Homo sapiens: one gene and its partners. The protein of the gene in region 2 purifies or fractionates together with the protein of the main gene of each other region. This does not show direct contact. Each region holds a gene or a part of one and is shown on either strand. Other genes may lie near its edges. The genes, in order: LYZL1, XAGE3 and METAP1D.

Region 1 (4,338 bases), on a different chromosome or scaffold from region 2:
GATTTTGGACTCGGCGCCTGTGACCAGGCAGCCAATGAGGGTCAGAATGCCCGCAGCCTTCATCCTCAAAGCCTGCCGGAGACAGAACCTGCCAAAGAGCCGGAGAACAGGTCAGACGATCTTGGTTCAGGAACTTTGAAATCCAGCGGTGGTGACTGTGCACAGCCCTGCCTAGATGCTGCCTGTCACTTTGGTCATTCAGTGCCACCATCAGGGAAAACCGGCCACTCTACGGTCCAGGGAAGGAAGGCAACTGAAGGCTGTTTCCTTAATGCTTTTCCATACAGTAACTTTCAAGTCAATGCTGTGTTCTCAGGGTTAAGCAAGCAAAAAAATTAACCCTCCTTAATACACATCCAGGTGAAAACCACAGGGGGCATTTTTAGGATTTCTATTTTAATTCTATGAATGAAAAATAGAATACAGGGGTGAAACATTCCCTATACTGCTGACCCTTGAACAACATGGGTTTGAACTGCGTGGGTCCATTTATCCGTGAATTTTCTTCTGCCTCTGCCACCCCGAGACAGCAAGACCAACCCCTCCTCTTCCTCCTCCACCTCAGCCTGCTCAGTGTGAAGACAACCAGGATGAAGCCCTTTATGATGATCCACTTCCACTTAACAAATAGTAAATGTATCTTCTCTTCCTTATTCTTTTCTGAATAACATTTCATTTCTCTAGCTTACTTTATTGTAAGAATCCAGTACAGAAGACATAGAACATAAAAAATATGTGTTTATTGGCTATTTATGTTATCAGTAAGGCTTCCAGTCAGCAGTAGGCTATGGAGTCGTTAAGTTTCTGGGGAGTCAAAAGTTACATGCAGATTTTCAACTGAGCAGGCGTCGGTGCCCGTGACCCCTACATTTGTTCAAGGATCAACTGGATGTGTAGAAACAGACAGCCCATTTCAGCCACAGATGAAAGACACGTGGGCCTGTATGGAAAACTTTAAGGGTTATTGTTTGGGGGTTTATCGAAGAGTGAAGATTAAGCACCTACTCTTTCATTTTCTTTTCTTGATTCAGTTCCAAATGTGGGAGCTTTGCTTCCAAAGTATCAGTGCTTTTATTTATTTATTTATTTTTTGAGATGGAATCTCACTCTGTTGTCCAGGCTGGAGTGCAGTGGCGCCATCTGGGCTCACTCCAAACTCTGCCTCCCAGGTTCAAGCGATTCTCCTGCCTCAGCCTCCTGAGTAGCTGGGATTACAGGCGCCCACCACCACACCTGGCTAATTTTTGTGTTTCTAGTATAGATGAGGTTTCACACTGTTGGTCAGGCTCATTTCAAACTCCTGACCTTGTGATCTGCCCACCTCGGCCTCCCAAAGTGCTGGGATAACAGGTGTGAGCCACCATGCCCAGCCCAAAACATGAGTGTTTTATCTTAGATTGCAAATGCATTGCTTTGCTAAGCTTCACCACCAGTGCTCCGGGGGGCCTCCTAAAAGTCTGGCACCTGACTGGGGAGCAAGAGGGATGGAGGACAAAGCCTCATGAAAGGAGGAAAGCACCTGGGGGAGCAGAGGGGCAATAAAGAGACCCCTGCGGAATCATCTGAAATGGGAGTAGGATCAAGAGAGCTGTCTCCTGCTGCCTACTGATTTTCCACAATCTCTTCCCCTCTTGAAATAATGTCTTCCCCAAATACAACAGCCTTGCTGGGATGGGGTGAAGTGAAATTTCTGACAACTACTCGGGATCCTGAACTTGATGTTCTTACATATGTTCATCCCGTGTCATTTTCTGCACTTGCCTAGAAACTTCTCCAGTCATTAGTTTCTCTCCCTGGGGCTGGATTCCTGCATTGAAAGGCTAGGCCCAAAACAGGGATAAGTAGTCATCAGCAAGGCCACCGCACCAAGTAACAAGCAGGGCTTTAAGGTGACTAAGCAATAAGGTAAGGAACTGCATTGCATGAGGGGCATGTACATTACAAACGTGAATAGCAAGCGTGGGCAAACCAGGCCCGCTTTTGTATGTAAAGTTTTATTGAAACATAGCTACACCCATTTGGTAATATATCATTGGTGGCTGATTTCCAACTACAGTGGCAGAGTTCAGTAATTGTGTTTGAGGCCGTATAGACCACAAAGCCTAACATATTATTATCTGGCCCTTTTCAGAGAGAGCATGCCAGTCCGCTGTGTACAGCACTGTGTTAAGCTGTGAGGGACAGACAAACGAGGTTTAAGATGCAGAGCTAAGGCCAGGCATGGTGGGTGATACCTGTAATCCAAGCACTTTGGGAGGCTGAGGTGAGCAGATTGCTTGAAGCCAGGAGTTTGAGACTAGCCTGGGCAGCAAAGGTAGACCCTGCCTCTACAAAATATACAAAAATTAGCCAGGCATGGTGGTGTGTGCCTGTGGTCCCAGCTACTGGGGAGGCTGAGGTGGGAGGATCACTTGAGGCTGGGAGTTTGAGGCCATAGTGAGCCATGATTGTGACACTGCACTCCAGCCTGGGCAGCAGAGTGAGAGACCCTGTCTAAAAAAAAAAAAAAAAAAGAAAAGAAAAAAGAAAAAAAGATACAGAGCTTACAAATAGAGTTGGTTTCCATCCCCTGCCTTAGAATTTTACTGATCTCAAACAAGTCCAAAGAAAACCCGCAGCAATGATAACCCCAAGCATCATGTTCTACATCCTTCAAGAACCTGCCATTGCTGGTTCTCATAAGAGTAATTTAGGTCTTACTGAAAAGGCAGATTCCTGGTGCCTGCCCCAGAGGCTGACTTCTCAGTTGAGTCTGCGGAAGAAACACTGCTCCACTTAGTCGGTGACAGGCAGCTCAGGGGAGCGTCCTGCATCCCCTGAAGCCATGTCTGATTCTAACGAGGCGCGAGTAATCCTTTCCTAGCTCAAGAACATTTCTTTAGAGTGTTAGAGAAAGAAAAATTCTTAATCCTTTGTTTCTCACCACCTAGAGATGCTAGAATTCTACTTCTTGGCACTAAAAGCTGTATCATCCTGCATGCTTGTGTTCTGAGGCAGGTGATAACTGTCTTCTGGGGCTTAATACCTCTTGTTTTTTGTCTTTTCCCCTCAACAACCCTCCTCATTACACAACTTGGCCAGGGCCTCCTGTCCAAGTGAGAGCTCTTCTCTGAGGCGTCTGCAAACTTTATCACAAATTCCATTAATAAAGAAAGTTAAGCATGTATCCTCTTTAGATGTACATTGAGTTATAAATCATACTTCTGTACCTCAGTACTAATATGCTACATAAATTATCAACATACATAAAACTAAAATTTGAAAATTAATGACATAGAGGTGAAATTAACATTAAAAATTTATTAACAGCACATTTGCTATAGTCAAATTATTATTAATAAAATATTTTTGTAATAACATGATTTTATTATTTTTGAAAAATTTGGCTTAACACTTTGTGAATCAATAACTAAAGGGCTGTTTTCAAGGTCTATTTATTTCAATGTTCAGATTTAGTGACACATTTGAAATGAATTCTCATTAGAATATGTAGATCTAAGTAGAAGTTTATTGTTGGCTGCACCTAACTAATCGTTATATTTTCTTAAATTCCATCTGCCAATAATGCAAAGGTTTTGTTGAAATCTATTTTGAAGTTCATATAGTATTGCATTATACAGATACAACATAGCATACTTAGCCAATTTCATATTGATGCACACTTATTTTATTCTTCTATTGTAAACATATTACAACCAGTAATTTTGTACATATGTCATTTGTAACTTTACAAGAATATCTTGCTGGATCAAAGGGTATAATTTTGTAATTTTGCTAGATATTTGCCAAATTGCCTTTCACATGGGCTTGTATCAGGAAGATAGCACACTGTGTTATCAAATGTTTCAATATTTCTCAATATTAGAGATGAAACATAATTTTTCAGCAGAGTTTCAATTTCAACTTTCGTTATTTCAAGCTGCTTGAGGGTCTTTTTTATCTTTAGAAGCCATTAGTGGACTTCTTGTGAACAGTCTATAATATGAGAAAATGTATAGGTTTTTCCCTCAAACATCTTTTTCAAAATGCTTTGAAATAGGGATCTTACCAGTGAGAAAATAGAGACGGATTGTCTTTTTCTTTTTCAAAAATGCTTGCTTAGCAAGTTTTCAGATATGACGTAAATATACAAAAGCCATTTACAATCTTATATACTAGGAATAGAAAATAAGAGTTTGAAATAAAAAAAAATCCATTTACAATAGTACACAAATGCAAATGAAGTACTTAAATTTAAACCTAACAAAATATGTGCAGGATATATATACTGACAACTATAAGACAGACGGAAAATTAAAGAAGACCTGAGTAAATGAAAAAGACACACCATATTCATGA
Region 2 (3,211 bases):
ATCAACTTAACCTTCAACTCTTCTCCCTTCCCTGAAGGTTTGGGGTGGGGCTGAAAGTCCCAGCCCACTAATCCCCCATCCCAAAGCTACCTAGGGGCTGCTAGGCATCAGTCCAACTCATTAGCATACAAAAAGACATCACTTTGTGGAGATTCTAAAAATATTAAGAGTTGTATGCCAGTATACAGGGTAGAGGACCAAATATATATTTATATATTTCATAATATCACAAGTGTGTGTACCAGTGTAATCAGAATAGAAAATTTCAAAAATGATACTTTTCCTTTTCTTTTTTTAAACAGAGTCTCACTCTGTCACCCAGGCTGGAGTTGCAGTGGCCTGAACATAACTACCTACATCCTCGACCTCCTGAGTTCAAGGGATCCTCTCAACATAGCCTCAGGAGTAGCTGGGACTAAGGCTACATATATACATGCATACATTCATGCATTCATGCAGTCATTCATTTATTTTGCAGTGAGGGGGTCTCACTATGTTGCCCAAGCTGGTGTCAGTTTCCTGAGCTCAAGAAATCCTCCTGTCTCCGCATCCCAAAGTGCTGGGATTACAGGCTTGAGCCACCACACCTGGCCACCATTTTCAATAGTACCAAATATTTGGGAATAAAATGAACAAAAAATGTGCAAGACTTCTTTGGAGAAAGCTGCAAAAGTTTATTTCGATATTTTTAAGTCAAATATCTTAGATAAAAACAGTTTTGTGTTGTTTCAGCTTGTCTTCATTTAAACCTGTGGTTGCCTGTCACCTATAATAGAAATATAACAGGAGGGAACATTAGTAGCAGAACTGTATTCAGATGACATTAAAGGTAGGCAAAGGACACCAAAGTTTTGGTTTTATACCGTGGATTAAACCAGAAGCCTAAGAGTAACCTGATGGCTAACATTCAGTTAGACCTCTGTAGAGACTTTGAAGATAGGCTTCCAAGTATATACATTAGCAACATTTTTAAAACATCCTGCCTTCTGTAGTTCAAGGAAACCAAAAACTGTCTAACTTCAGAGCACTTTAAATCAAGTGAACCTATTAAAAGGTGGCTCAAAGTGAAAAGCAAACATTGTGTATTGTTTTAATAAAAATATGACCAACACACAACAAACCTAAGAAACAAAAGGAATTTACAAACAATGTATCATGTAATGCAATGTTTTGCCTTGAAATAATAGTCTGGATGTTCAACAAGCTCCTGGGAAACAATTTATGTCACATTAGGGACTGCAAAAGTGCAGTGAATTGAAAGGTCAGTACTGCATTTGTTTTTTCTCTTTGCACAGAAGTCCAAAAATATTGCTTGGGGCTAGTTCATCCTTCTGTGGTCTTTAAGGTACGGTAACCATTTGTCCAAGATTTTCACCTATCATCCTGATGTCAATATGAAGAGTCCCTCTTTTTACACTTGAAAGTATTCCCATTGGTAAAATAAATTACATGGTCACATTTGGTTTAATCTATCACTATTATTTTTGACATCAAAATGAGAAAGAGGCATATATCATGAATAGTCGGGCAAAAAAAGAAATGGAGGGAGAGGAAAATAGAAAAGGACAGTAAGACATCTGGAAAAGCCAAATAATTGTTTCTAAAAGTTAAGTGTTTTTGAGGGATAAGTGGGAACTTTCAGAAGTTTTCCCACACTCTTTGTGATGCTTAGATGTTCAGGTATTACTGGAATAAATTAACTAATGTATGTGTTCCTAGCATATCAATCATTTCATTCATACTTCGAAAATACTAGAGTTCAAGAATGTATTCACTTTCGATTATACCATATATTCAGTATCTGTTAGGGTCTTGTTCATATTCCATGTTGAGCTTTTTCCATTTTCTTCAAGAGTGTGTAAACTATTACTCTATTCATAGCTATTTTTCAAAAGAACAATCTTTTAAATGTATTACTTTTGGATTACATTTCCTTTTACTAATGACTCATATCTGTCTCTTATTAAGGACCTCTTTCCTTTTCCCTTAGATTTATTCTATTGCTCTTTATAATTTTCATTAATATTTTCCTTTCTCGTGTAATTTTCTATCTATTTTAACAAGATACTCACTTAAGACTATCTTCCTAAGAATACAATTGAGGATTGCTCAATGGGCTCCTGGAAATAATTGAAAACTATCTTTCATGTAAATAGTCTAATGGAATGGTTCAGCAGTATAGAGTAAAACCATTTAGGCAATTTCTTCCATAAATATGGAATGCTTCCTATAAATTCAGAAGCTCTTCTGATTAACAGTCATCAATTTGGAAAATATGTGGAAAAGATACTTTCATGAAGCAAGTTGCCCACTCATTTTCTTAGGAACCATGAAATCTCAACTCAGATATTATAACTGGAGCGAAACTGATTGTTATGAAAAACAAATCATATCTTTGTATTCTATCCAACAGAACATGAGGATACAGAAATCAATTTTGAAACAGATGTTAATACATCTGATATGCATTTACTATTTTCAATAACAGCAAAAGATGGTTGTAGAATTTATGGAATTCATCCAGAATCTCACAAATAATGTTAGAGCTGTTATTAGAATCTGCTTAAGGTGCTCAGGATATTTCACACAAAGTGGTATTACAAATGCATTATGTATTTGTTAAAAGCAGAAATTGAAAAATATCTGAAAATTGTTAGTTGTTGGGTATAATCAGAAGTAAGAATATGCTTTCATATTTGATGATTCAATGTGGGTTTGACCCAATTTGTGTCTGTAGCTGATAGTGTTTAAGTCTTACAGTCAGGCAATTGGGGTCTGAACAACCTTTCAAAAAAAGTCTGCATTTGAACTCTGATTTTAAAGGGATAGTAATGTTCTCTTTTATTATCAAAAGTATAATATTGTGGAAAACAGAAAGCACATAATAATGGATAGCATACCTCCTTCTGGCATTTTAAATTGTTCTGATTTTGGCAGAATCTTCCCCTGGTCATCAGGACCATTTCCACATTCACCCCCAGTCTTTGACTGAGACAGCTCCTGGAGATCAGCTTCCAGGTCAGGCACTAAAAAATACAAAGGTTGTCGATTGAAGCAGGCAAACAAGAAAGATAAAGAAGGAAATGATAATATTCTTTTCCTCAATGTTATGAAATAAAAGGCTGCAGGCGACTGTGGTAATAAATGTGATGCAAAGATGTCCCACCTTTGTTTTCCTGTACTATGAAATCTTATCTTAAATGACAATCTG
Region 3 (3,655 bases), on a different chromosome or scaffold from region 2:
TTTTTCTTTTCTTCTAAGGAAAAAAGTGTCAGTTTTGTAACTAATACCAAATTCTCACTCTCACTGTGATGGCCAGGCCAGGGGATACATCCTGGTGGCCCTTCTGTGTCACTGGCCTTTGCCATAAAAGTGGGCCACTCACCTTCAGAAGTATAACATACTAAATATGGGCTCGCTGTAAACAAAGTTCATAAAAGGGAGAAAGCAGATGATTTTTGTGACCAATCTATATTTCTTTAGCTACTCTCCTTCTTCCTAAAGGGCTCACTCGCACACTCCCTTTATATTGCATTTTGAAAAATGGATAGATTGCCTTTCCACAGAATTGCAATCTCTGAAAAAAAAAAGCCAAGACTGCTCTGAGACATATTTTATTTAATTTAGTCTAAAAGACAATTCAAAGACACCAGCATCAATAACAAGGAAAATGTAAGAACAGGCTTAAAAAAATCTAGTATGTTAGTTTTAAGTAATCTCTTTTGAATCATCACAATTTTATAGTCAATTTTTTTTCTCTAAAACAGTTAGAAAACTACATACGTATAGTTTTATCTTCATGTTAGAAATTTAATATAGAAAATTTCATGTTAAAAATTTTAATTCTAAATACTCTAAGCAATTGAAAGCTTAGAGCTTTGTTTTAAAAAATTAATGCTATAGAATTGCAGGATATTAAAACTTCTCAAATCACAGTTTTAGATCACAAACCTAGTTTGAAAATTAAAACCCAAATGGCTCAGAAATCAAAGGTGCAAAAATATTTGATCACTTCTGCAGTCAACTTTTATCTTGGCTGGAAAAAGCAGGAGATAATAGGCAATACAGTACCTTAGGAACCGGATGAGCTGAAGAAACTGCAGCCGGCAAAACTATACTGTGTGAAATATCTCTTTGTCTCCGAAAAAAGAAATTTCTTCTTTGTTGACTGCTTGACTGCTTGTGTAAGTAGATATGATTGAGTGGTGAAGAGAAAATTCTATGAGAACCTGTGAGCAGAAACAGACATATTTTAAGTAAAAAAACAACCTAACACAGTCCTCCACTTTAAGATGTTGTGGTGTTGTCTATTAAATCATTATTCTAATACCTTATTGACTGAAAAAGGAAAAGCCCCAAATAGAAATGAAAACAGTGGTATTCTGAATTCTAGTACAATAGTAACACAGCGTATTTATTAGCTAATACTATGTTTACATAAATGCGTGACAATGGAAAACTCTACTCTAACGGGAAACAAACATATAGAAACATCTGCTAAGCACCAGGTCTGTAAAAAGAACAATTTCTGCTGTAATACCTTATGTGGCAATGTCCAAGACGACCCTAGATTCAGGGCACTGTTTTGATGGCTTTATACTCTGTAAAGCCGTTTCCTTTCAAGAATCACGGACAAATTGCCAGCTGCACTTTTTGCCCTCCATAGGATTACTACTCTGTGTTAAGTTCACGTGCAGTGAGGCATTATACTGAAATTCATTGTGATGAATGTTCAAGTCAGATAAAGACTAAATAGCAAAAATGTAAGTATAACACTGAAAGAAAATGAATATAGGGTTTGAAGTACTCACAACAGGAATTTAGAAATGTCTATCAAAATTTTAAATGCACATATCCTTTGACTCAGCAGTTCATCTCCTAGGACTTTATCCTGCAGACACTATGCACTGATGGATGAATGAAGATGTACCCTCATGGCAGCATTATTTGTGGTAGAAGAAAGTGGGAAACAACTCAAATGTTTCCAAATAGGAAATACCAGTAGGGGACTGATTAAATATATTATGGTATACTTACAGAAAATTCTGGAGCTATTAAAAAGAATAGGCTAAATCATCATCTCTATGTGTTGATATGGAAAGAGGTCACAATACACTGTTAGGAAAAAAGTGAATGCTTAACAAATACATATAAAAAGCCCATTAATGTAAAAGGAGCTTATACATTTATATAAGCTTGCACGTGCTCATAAAATTTCTGGAAATTGATATTTGTAAACAGTGGCTCTTTCTGTGGCTTGTGGTTGGGGCTAGAGGTAGAGAGGAAGACTTTTTTTTTTTTTTTTTTTTTGAGACAGGGTCTTGCTCTGTCGCCCAGGCTAAGGCAACAGTGGTGCGATCATGGTTCACTGCAGCCTTGGATTCCCAGGCTCAAGGAATCCTCCCACTTCAGCCTCTTGAGTAGCTGGAACCACAGGCACATGCTACCATGCCTGGCTAATTTTTGTATTTTTTGTAGAGATGGGGTCCTGCTATGTGGCCCAGGCTGGTTTTAAACTCCTGGGCTCAAGCGATCCTCCCACCTCGGCCTCCCAAAGTGTTGAGGTTACAGGCGTGAGCTACTGCATCCAGCCAGGAAGACATTTTGATTCATTTTATTACTTTCATATTTAGAACAATCTTTTTTTTGTTTTTTGTTTTTTGGTTTCTTTTTTTTGAGACGGAGTCTCACTCAGTCGCCCAGGCTGGAGTACAGTGGCGCGATCTTGGCTCACTGCAACCTCCGCCTCCCAGGTCCAAGCAATTCTCCTGCCTCAGCCTCCAGAGTAGCTGGGACTGCAGGCGCGCACCACCAGGCCCGGCTAATTTTTTTGTATTTTTAGTAGAGACGGGGTTTCACCATGTTGGCCATGCTGGTCTCAATCTCCTGACCTCGTAATCTGCCCGCCTTGGTCTCCCAAAGTGCTGGGATTACGGGCGTAGCCACCGCGCCTGGCCAGAACAATAGTTTTAGAAGTCCCCAACAGGTCACAACTACATGGCAGGGGTCAGAAAACTACAGCTCAAGGGCCAAATCTGGACTGCTGACTGTTTTTATACAGCACAAAACCTAAAAATGGTTTTTACATTTATAAATGGTTGAAAAAAACTTTTTAACCCAATATTTTGTAATACATGAAATTCAAATCTTGGTGCCCATAAATAAAAGGTTCATTGGACCATAGCTACCCTCATTTGCTTACAAATGTCTATGGAGGATTTTGAGCTACAGTGGTAGCTGAGTAGTTGTGAACACATGTTCCACAGAGCCTAAAAAATGTACTCTTTGGCCCTCTACAGGAGACATTTGCTGAATCCTGGTCTAGAGCAGTAGTCCTTAAAATGAGGTTCACAGACCAGCAGTATAATGTCACATAGAAAAAAGATGCAAGGCTGAGTGCGGTGGGTCACGCCTGTAATCCCACACCTTGTCTCTACTAAAAATACAAAAATTAGCCGGGCATGGTGGCGCGCGCCTGTAATCCCAGCTACTCGGGAGGCTAAGGCAGGAGAACTACTCGAACCCGGAAGGCAGAGGGTGCAGTGAGCCAAGATCGCGCCACTGCACTCCAGCCTGGGTGACAGAGCAAGACTCTGTCTCAGAAAAAAAAAAAAAGAAAGAAAGAAAGAAAAAGAAAAAAGATGCAAATTCTTGGGCCCCGTATCGACCTACAAACATAGAAACTGGTGATGGAGGCGGGCAATCTGTGCCTTAACCAGCCCTCAGGTAATCCTGACGCACACGAAGCTTGAGAACTGGCCTAGAGTAACATTTCAGCTGTGAAACATAATGAAAACGTGAATTGCAGGTAAGTACTGGCTTCAAAACTCTGGATCTCTAATTGACTTGGGGAAAGGCACTGATGCAAACAAACCGCAATGATCAGTGATTCAGGGTG

What was found.
Region 1: the proteins of XAGE3 (region 2) and LYZL1 purify together in Homo sapiens (co-immunoprecipitation; one large-scale study listed by IntAct). This does not show direct contact.
Region 3: the proteins of XAGE3 (region 2) and METAP1D purify together in Homo sapiens (affinity purification with mass spectrometry; 2 studies listed by BioGRID and IntAct, with this or other methods). This does not show direct contact.

The regions. Positions count from the first base shown.
Region 1 is NC_000010.11:29,287,593-29,291,930, reverse strand, and holds the start of LYZL1 (lysozyme-like protein 1 precursor), read right to left. Parts: upstream 2,862-4,338; 5' UTR 2,814-2,861; coding exon of another isoform or gene 2,701-2,813; intron 89-2,700; coding exon of another isoform or gene 64-88; coding exon 1-63.
Region 2 is NC_000023.11:52,861,875-52,865,085, forward strand, and holds the end of XAGE3 (X antigen family member 3), read right to left. Parts: intron 3,027-3,211; coding exon 2,901-3,026; intron 767-2,900; coding exon 744-766; 3' UTR 654-743; downstream 1-653.
Region 3 is NC_000002.12:172,058,829-172,062,483, reverse strand, and holds part of METAP1D (methionine aminopeptidase 1D, mitochondrial isoform 1 precursor), read right to left. Parts: intron 987-3,655; coding exon 829-986; intron 1-828. UniProt on the Homo sapiens protein: Removes the N-terminal methionine from nascent proteins. The N-terminal methionine is often cleaved when the second residue in the primary sequence is small and uncharged (Met-Ala-, Cys, Gly, Pro, Ser, Thr, or Val).